Linked DNA regions of Homo sapiens: region 2 is linked to region 1. The links come from fine-mapping of genetic effects on gene expression. A gene starts in region 1. The other region holds a variant in brackets. All regions are shown on one strand. Distances are from middle to middle. Region 1 holds the start of CSPG5 (chondroitin sulfate proteoglycan 5). Region 2 overlaps SETD2 (SET domain containing 2, histone lysine methyltransferase).

Region 1 (4,519 bases):
AGTGTCCCTATGCACCTGCCTGCCATGCCCTTACCTGCAGAAGGCCCCTATGTTCTCCACCAGGTAGCACTGGCCGCCATTGTGACAGTAACTTGGGAAGAGGTCGCACACTGACCGGCAGGAGCCGTTATGCCGCACAAAGCCACTGCGGCACTCAGTGCCATTTTCACTGGAGGCCAAGTCCCTGCCTGGCTCTCCTGGGCGGGGCCTGAGGGCGATGCTGCTGCCGGGGACCGACCCCAGAGTGTGCTGTGGAGGGACAGCATGCCACCGACTGGTGGGCTGGCCTGTCCCGGGCCCCAGACCAGGCTTCCCAGTGGGCACTAGAAGCTCATTTTCATCTTCTAGGTCTCCACCTCCTACTGCATCTTTGTCATCCTCCTCTTCCTCCTCCTCTTCATCCAAGTCATCATAAAAGGATGTGGTGGGGTAGAAATCAGATTCATCGAAGGGGGTGAAATCATCGTATAAGTCAAGCAGGCTCCAGGAAGGGGTCTCTCCCTCAGTATCAGGGTGGTTCTCTGAGGTTCCTGGTGACCCTGGGAAGCTCCCCAGATCTGCGCCACGACCCTCACCATCCAGTCCTTCGAAGTAGTCGATGTCAATGATATCTGATGCCGGTTGGGGCTCCAGGGTGCCCTGAAATGGGTAAGTCAGCTCTGGCCCTTGAGGGTCGGGTGTGCTGCCCCCCAGGTTCAGCCAAACCTCCAAGGGGCTCTCCTTGGGGAGTTCAGAAGCTGGGCTCAGCTTGTCGCCGGGGGTGGGGGAGGGTGGCCCGCTGGCCTCTGTAGCCTCAGGAATGGCAGGGGGCATGATTGACTGCCCGAGGACCTCGTGGGGAGCCTGGAGCGTAGCTGGAAGGGCCTGGGCATCGCCGCTGCCCGCCTCTGCGGTCACTCCTCCCAGGCCTGGGCTGTCAGCTTCCAGCCAGGCGGTGCCGGTCACCGCAGCCGACTCCTGCAGCACCTCTTCTGGCCCGGCCAGCTCGCCACCGGGCGCCGTCCACGACGCCTCATCTTCCCCAGCCGCTGGTGGGCCGGCTTCTTCCCGCGTGTCGTTGGCAGGCGGCTCCCACGCCGGGCTGCCCTTCACCAGCTCTTCGGCCTCAACCGCGCTGCCCGCCTCACGCGCTGCGGGCGGGAGGGCAAGGGGCGGGACGTCAGGGCGGCGCGCTGAGGAGCCCTGGAGCCCCGGCCCGCCCCGGTCAGGCCCGCTCGCCTAGACCTGGTCAACCCAGACCTCGCCACCCTCAGACCCCACCGCCCCAGTGTGACCCCAGCCACCCGGTACCTCTAAGCCCCGTCCCGGAGTCTGCCCCCAAGACGAGGATCACACCCCGCCCAACGCCTCGCGGCTCGGCCCCGCCCGACCTGCCCCGCCGTCTGAAGAGCCAGGCCAGGGCGGCCCCCAGCTCGGCCCACCCATAAGTCTCACCCTCGGGAACCCACCCTGAGCCGCGTCCACTGGCTCCCGCCCTCAGCTCCAGGTCCCGCCCCGAAGTCTCACCCTCAGGCCCCGCCCCGGCCCCGCCCCGGCCCCGCCCCCGGCCCCGCCCCCAGTCCGCACCGCGGCCCGCGCGCTTGGGTCCCGGCTACCCCAACCGGGGTCGGCCCCCACGCGGGTCGGCCTTTCCCGGACCCCCACCACCTCCTGGGACCATTCCGCCGCCCGGCCGCGGCCAGGCGGTGCCCCGCCCCCTTGCCACAGCTCACAGCTCCACCTGTCCCCGCCGCCAGCGGGACCCCTGCCCTGGGTGGGGCACGAGGGCCGCGGGGGTCCCGGGCGCAGTCATACCTACCCGGCACGGCCCCAGAGGCCAGGACCAGCGCGGCCCCCAGAAACAGCAGCAGTGGCGGCGGCCCCCGGCCCGGGCCCCCGCCCCCGGCTCGCCCCATGGCGCGGCGCCCCGACCGCTGTCCGCGGTCCGCCCGGCTGGCTGCGCCCTCGGCTCGCCCGGCCGCCGCGCCTCCCGCCGGTTCTGCGGCCGCCTCAGCCCACGATGGGCAGCGCGAGGAGCCGCATGCCGCCGCCGCCGCCGTCCGCCGCTGTCCCCGGCGCGCCGCGCCTCCCCGCCTCCCGCGCCGCCGCTGCCGCCGCTGCGCTCAGCGCCGCCCTCACCCCGCCCGCCGCGCCGGCCCCGCCGCACGTAGCGGTGACGCCGGCCCCTTGGTCAGCCTGCCAGGGGAACAGACAGACCCCTCGCTGGGGACTAGGAGACACACGGACGGGGAGTGCGGGGCAGGCGGACGGGGAGCGCGAGGCAGGCGCACGGCGCGGCGCGCGGCGTTAGGCGGCAGGTGCACGGGCGGGAGACCTGTGGGATGGGGCCACGGTCCCGCCCCAGGTGAACAGGCGGCACGGGGCCCCGACCCGGAGGAACCCACCCGCCACGCGGCAAGCACGGAGGCGGGGACGTCGCGGGCCCAGTTACCCGCAGGGTCGGGGCGGGGTCCAGAAGAGCCGCAGGGGGCGGAAGCACGAGCCCCCACTGTGGAAACAAGCCAGGCCCGGGGCGCATGGAGCCTCTCGGATTCTGCACCAATCCCGTGTTCCGGGCGGGAAGGCTCTCAGGGAGGTCTCCGGGTCTCCACGAGGGAGGGGCGGGCGTTGGCAGAGCCTGGCAAGGGGGCGAAGCCGACCGCCCAGGCTCTAATCGGATCAGATCTAATCCGTTCGCAGCCAAAGCCACTAGCCTAGATCTCGCACAGCCAGGCCCGCCATAACGCATCCCGGGAGCAAGGGGTAAGACCCTCCCTGGGACTGCGGCTACCTCGCCTTCCTTCTAGTCTCCGGGCAGCCTGGGGAGCGGCCTTTAATCCTGGTCCCTTCTCCGGGATACGTCGTCCCCCAGGTGTCTCAGACCACCAAAACTCAGGTTCCTGGGTAGACCAGGGGGGTCTAGATCCCCAGCCGGGCACACATGGATGCTTGGCTTTAGAGTGATCTGTGGGGCCCATTCACAGCTTCAGGGCTCACAGGGCAACCCAAGACCACGCACCAGGAGGTCTGCTTAGTCGGCAGGAGGAACCGCAACCTAGTTACTTAGTTTATTCCCCCAAACCGACCGTCTACCCCTTAATGTGTTACTCACCCAAATGACAGTTCAGGGTATCAGCCCAAGGAGATAGGACAACTCCAGTATTTAAGAGACGGTCCCATTGCTGTCTTAGAAGACCAAATAAGTGACCAAGATGGAGATTCTATCTCCTAATCTTTCTGATACATATCTCCAGATGGAGTTGCCTTGGTTCAAAACCTGTTTCTCAGCAGAACTATGGCTGCAGCCTATTTGCCTAGCCTAGCGTCTCCACCTCTCCTGCCTGGTAAACTCCTCATGCCAGAAAAACTCAGTTCTTATCACCTTTCCCTCTATGAAGGCTTCTCAGCAGTTACACTTAATGCCCATCATCTCATCTTATCTACAGTTATTCCTCACTGGACTGCAAGGCACTTGAGTGCACAGGGCTGGTAACAGAGGGAGGCTCCATATCAGACAGGCATAAATGAACGAATGGCAACCACCCACACCCATCCCAGAACTGTGGTCTGGAGAGCCTTGAAAAAAGGGGTAAGGCTCTTTCTTTCATAGTTTCATGCTGCCTCCGGGGACCAAGTAAAATATGTTTGAAACAATAGCCTTCTCTAAACAGGGGACCATGTAGGGCTTTGCACTCACCTCAGCCACAGAGGCAGCAACGCACCCTTAACTGCCTCCAACCCATCTCTGCTTCCCTTGTGTGCAGCTTAACTCCTGTCACCTTTTACTGTATGTAGACTCTCTGTGTTCCTTTGCTTGTTTCCTCAACTCGGGTTGTGGCTGTCAGAGCGGCCTACCTCCTCCTTCCCTTCCTGAGGCCAGTCTGTGTGGGAAGACCTCATGGATGGGTTCCTTGATGTCTGGGGCATGACAACCACTCACACATTTTCAACAGGGTTTAATGGAGGAAGTTCTCCCACTCATTTTAAATATATTTTGTTAATTATTTAAGTATCTTCTTCTTCCCTTTCCTGGAGATGAAGTCTGCTAACGCTTCCTTCAATTTGGAATTTTTTTTTTTTGTTGAGACAGAGTCTCACTCTGTCACCCAGACTAGAGTGCAATGGTGTGATATTGACTCACTGCAACCTCTGCCTCCTGGGTTCAAGTGATTCTCTGCCTCAGCCTCCCGAGTAGCTGGGATTACAGGCATGCCACGCCCGGCTAATTTGGTATTTTTTGTAGAGACGGGGTTTCTCCATGTTGGCTCAGGCTGGTCTCGAACTCCAGGCCTCAGGTGATCCGCCCGCCTTGGCCTCCCAAAGTGCTGGGATTGCAGGCATGAGCCACCGTGCCCGGCCCAACTTGAGACTTTAAATCAATTGTTGCCACTCAGTTTCATTCTGATCTTCCCTAGTGGATCTCACTAGCAGTTTGAGAACTGAGCATAGCACACTTGGTTGGGTAACACCTCCACAAGATGAATGGGAAAATTCAGTCAGTGGAACGTGATGGGAAGGGCAGGATTCAGCTGCAGCGTGA
Region 2 (4,000 bases), 520 kb before region 1:
ACTCTGTCTCCAAAAATAAAAAAAAATTGTTACACGAATGCTAGTTTCTCAAATATATACCCACTAGAAGTATCTTTAAACTGTGACTTTTTTTTATTTTTTGAGACAGAGTCTCGCTCTGTCTCCCAGGCTAGAGTGCAATGGCGCAATCTTGGCTCACCACAACCTCCACCTCCTGGGTTCAAATGATTCTCCTGCCTCAGCCTCCCCAGTAGCTGGTATTACAGGCACCCACCATCATGCCCAGCTAATTTTTGTATTTTTGTAGAGATGGGTTTCACCATGTTGGCCAGACTGGTCTCGAACTCCTGACTTCAGGTGATCTGCCCACCTTGGCCTCCAAACGTGCTGGGATTACAGGAGTGAGCCACCATGCCCGGCCTAAAATGTGATTTCTAATGGGAATTACAGAAGAAATGTGAGAAGGTCCAATAGGTTATAGAGAGAAAAATACAATTTTTCTGTTACCACCTCTAGAATAATAAAAAATCATTATTACTTTATATCTGGATCACTTCACTTTATACTATGTCAGTGCAAAAGTAGTTTTCACCATTTTTAACAGCAAAAGCCATGACTACTTTTGCACCAACCTAAAATGAAAAATTATAGTCTAAGCACTCAAACTCTTGAGATGTAATTTTGTATAACTTTGTGAGAGTAAGTCACTTATTAGTGTCACAAGACCACTACAAATTACGTGACCTCTGTTAAAATTGAGCTTTTATGTTTAGTATGCAGTTGTGTAAAAAAATCAGTCACCTCTGATAACACATTTGCTCCAAATATTAAAGATACTGAATATGTAGATACACAGACGTAAATGTATATTATATCATGTTACATATTACTTCACCGCCAAGGTTATCACAGCTTGCAAACTCTGAGTAGCCATGTTGTATGGTTAACACTGGGCTTCAACAACACAAACTTCAAGGCTCCTAGAGGTCAGATTTTTAGGGCTAGACAACAGATGGATGAACATGACCAGATGTTACTTCACAGCCCATTAATGTCAATAATCTCCCCTGAATACTATTAAGGTAACTATTTGTGTAAGTAACCATCAAGGTATATGGTGCTTTGAATCTATCATTATTAATATCCCTTATCTTAATGCAAATCAAACCATTCTGAGGCATTCTGCTCATTTTATAGATGAGAAAACAAAGACTCAAGAATATTAATGCCTGTTTCTAGGATGCACAGTAAATGATAAACCAGGACTCAAAACACATACTAACAATATATTCTATGTTTCTCAATACCCCCAAAGCCCAGTATCATCTGATCAATTAATCTCACACAGTGGGGAACGGAAGGATAGTTGAACCACCACAGCCCATTTACCTACTACTTAAGTACACACAAAGTAGATTAGGGAATCAGTAAGTACTTCTTGATAGGGACAGAATGAAAGACTAGAAGCAAGTAAATTGTGATGCTTGGCTCTTAGGGCTAATGAATAAAACCAAGAGAATCTTTTTTTCTCATTGGGAAGGAATAAATGGATTTTATTTTATAAGAAAAATCATATGACCAGGGAGCTCTTTACTGAGGAGTCTTTAATGGATATCTTTCATTGCTGTTGCTTAGGCTCTAGTACTGAGATGGGACCTATTTCAGGAATAGGAATGGGGATAGACATAAACCATTTTTACTGTATCCCTGATACATATTTTTAGGGAAAAACTCAAAACTAATGGCTTGGTCCAAGAAAGAATATGGCTCATACCCAAGTCAAACTGACAGTAAAACAAAACCAAAACCAAAACCCAAAACATTCTGTAGGAGGGAGAATGAAACATACTCTCTCCCTACACACACACACAAACAATTCACACCTGATGACCAATAATGCCCACATTTTTACTAGCCTTCTGTAACAACAGTCATTTTAAACCAAACAGCAAACAAA[A/G]AGCAGAAAAAAACTATAAGCATGTTTAATGGAATGCTATTTATAATTATGAAAAATAACTTTTCATTTAAATGACTACCCCCAGTAAAATGGATGACTATATAAGCAAATAGGGTATTATACCCATTAAAACATTTATGTATGTATATGTATATGTACACACACACATATAGTATAATAGTAAATAATTTGAAAAAGTGGTTACAAATCATTTTAAGGAATTGAGTCAAATCTCTTTCCCCTACTCCAAGATCCCATCACAGTGGTCCCCATACTTATCCCCACTGGCTCCTCTTAAATAAAGTCTGACTTACTATCTTAAAAAAAAATCATTTTAAGTAGGAAAACATGGGATAAAAAACTTCAAGTCAAGACAAATATATAAAATACATAAAACTTGCTTTAAAGGATCATAAAAAATGAAAGTAGTTAATACAGTTAGGGTTTTAGTAATTAAAACAGGATACCTTGTCATGGCCATTTTAACAAATGTTTTAATACAGCTTCATTATGAAAATATGAACAGAAGTAAAAATTACTGTTTAATACTAAGTATTATGTGCAGGAAACATTGTTGGGAGTCTTCAACATCCACAATAATTCATTTTTAAGGGGTAATGAGGAGTGCTGGGAGAGAGACAGAAATGTGGTGATGATAATGCTTTGAACATTTTTTTTTCAAAGCTTTAAATGTACTGCTGGCCAGGCACAGTGGCTCACGTCTGTAATCTCAACACTTTGGGAGGGCCAAGGCAGGAGAACTGCTTGAGGCCAGGAGTTCAAGACCAGCCTGGGCAACACAGTGAGACCGCATCTCTTAAAAAAATTAGCAGGGTACAGTGATGCACACCTGTAGTCCCAGCTATTTGGGAGGTGGGAAGATCACTTGAGCCCAGGAGTTTAAGGCTGTAGTGAGCTATGATCGCATCACTGTACTCCAGCCCGGGTGGCAGAGCAAGACCTAATCTCTTAAAATAAAATAAAAAATAAAAAAAAGTTCTGCCGGCCAGGCACGGTGGCTCACGTCAGTAATCCCACCAGCACTTTGGGAGGCCGAGGTGGGTGGATCACGAGGTCAGGAGATTGAGACCATCCTGGCTAACACGGCGAAACCCCGTCTCTACTAAAAATACAAAAAAATTAGCCAGGCGTGGTGGTGGGCGCCTGTAGTCCAAGCTACTCGGGAGCCTGAGGCAGGAGAATGGCGTGAACCCGGGAGGCGGAGCTTGCAGTGAACCGAGATCGCGCCACTGCACTCCAGCCTGGGGGACAGAGCGAGACTCCGTCTCAAAAAAAAAAAAAAAAAAAAAAAAAAAAAAAGTTCTGCCTTGTATAATCTAAAAAAAAAAAAAAAGAAAAGAAAACATGATTTTTATTTATTTATTTATTTATTTATTTATTTATTTATTTATTTATTTTGAGATGGCATCTTGCCCTGTTGTCCAGGCTGGGGTACAGTGACGCTATCTCAGCTCACTGTAACCTCTGCCTCCTGGGTTCAAGCGATTCTCCTGCCTCAGCCTACCAAGTAGCTGGGATTACAGGCATGAGCCACCATGGCCGGCTAATTTTTTTTATTTTTTAGTAGAGATGGGGTTTCACCATGTTGGCCCGGCTGATCTCAAACTCCTGACTTCAGGTGATCCGTCCACCTCGGCCTCCCAAAGTGCTGGGATTACAGGTGTGAGCTACCACGCCTGGCCTGACCATGATTTTTAGAAAACACAAAAATATTACCATGATGAAGGGTTCTCCCTTGGGAGAAATGGAGGCCTGCTAACAACAATGTGAGTAGGTTGGAAAGTGAATCTCTATATCTAGTTCAGCCTTCAGATGACTGCAGCCATGGCCAACAGCTTGACTGTAATTTCATGGAAAACCCTGAGCCAGATCCACCCTGCTAAGCTGCTTCTGAGTTACTTATTGTCTTAAGCTGACAAGTTCTGGCAATATTTCACACAATAGATAACCAATACATATAAAGTTGATCAATATATACAAGTAGTCCATGGTAAGACTTCCTCCCCTATACCAGATTTAACTAACATCCCATGAACAGACCATAAAGCAGAAAAGAAAAGT

What was found. PIP is the estimated chance that this variant, and not a neighbour inherited with it, causes the effect.
Region 2: its variant is the best candidate, but not a certain one, in a credible set for the expression of CSPG5 in sun-exposed skin (GTEx, PIP 0.78).

Annotation. Positions count from the first base shown.
Region 1 is chr3:47,576,799-47,581,317 of GRCh38, forward strand. It overlaps CSPG5 (chondroitin sulfate proteoglycan 5), which reads right to left and starts at 2,067. Exons shown (of 5, transcript NM_006574.4): 1 at 1,799-2,067; 2 at 35-1,130. The coding sequence starts at 1,895. RefSeq lists silencers at 1,278-1,367, 1,418-1,477, 1,518-1,567 and an enhancer at 2,692-3,396.
Region 2 is chr3:47,052,806-47,056,805 of GRCh38, forward strand. All of the region lies in intron 15 of SETD2 (SET domain containing 2, histone lysine methyltransferase), which reads right to left. Among named protein-coding and RNA genes, the nearest start is that of NBEAL2, 75 kb to the left of the region's middle. The variant A/G (reference allele first, on the strand shown) is at 1,919.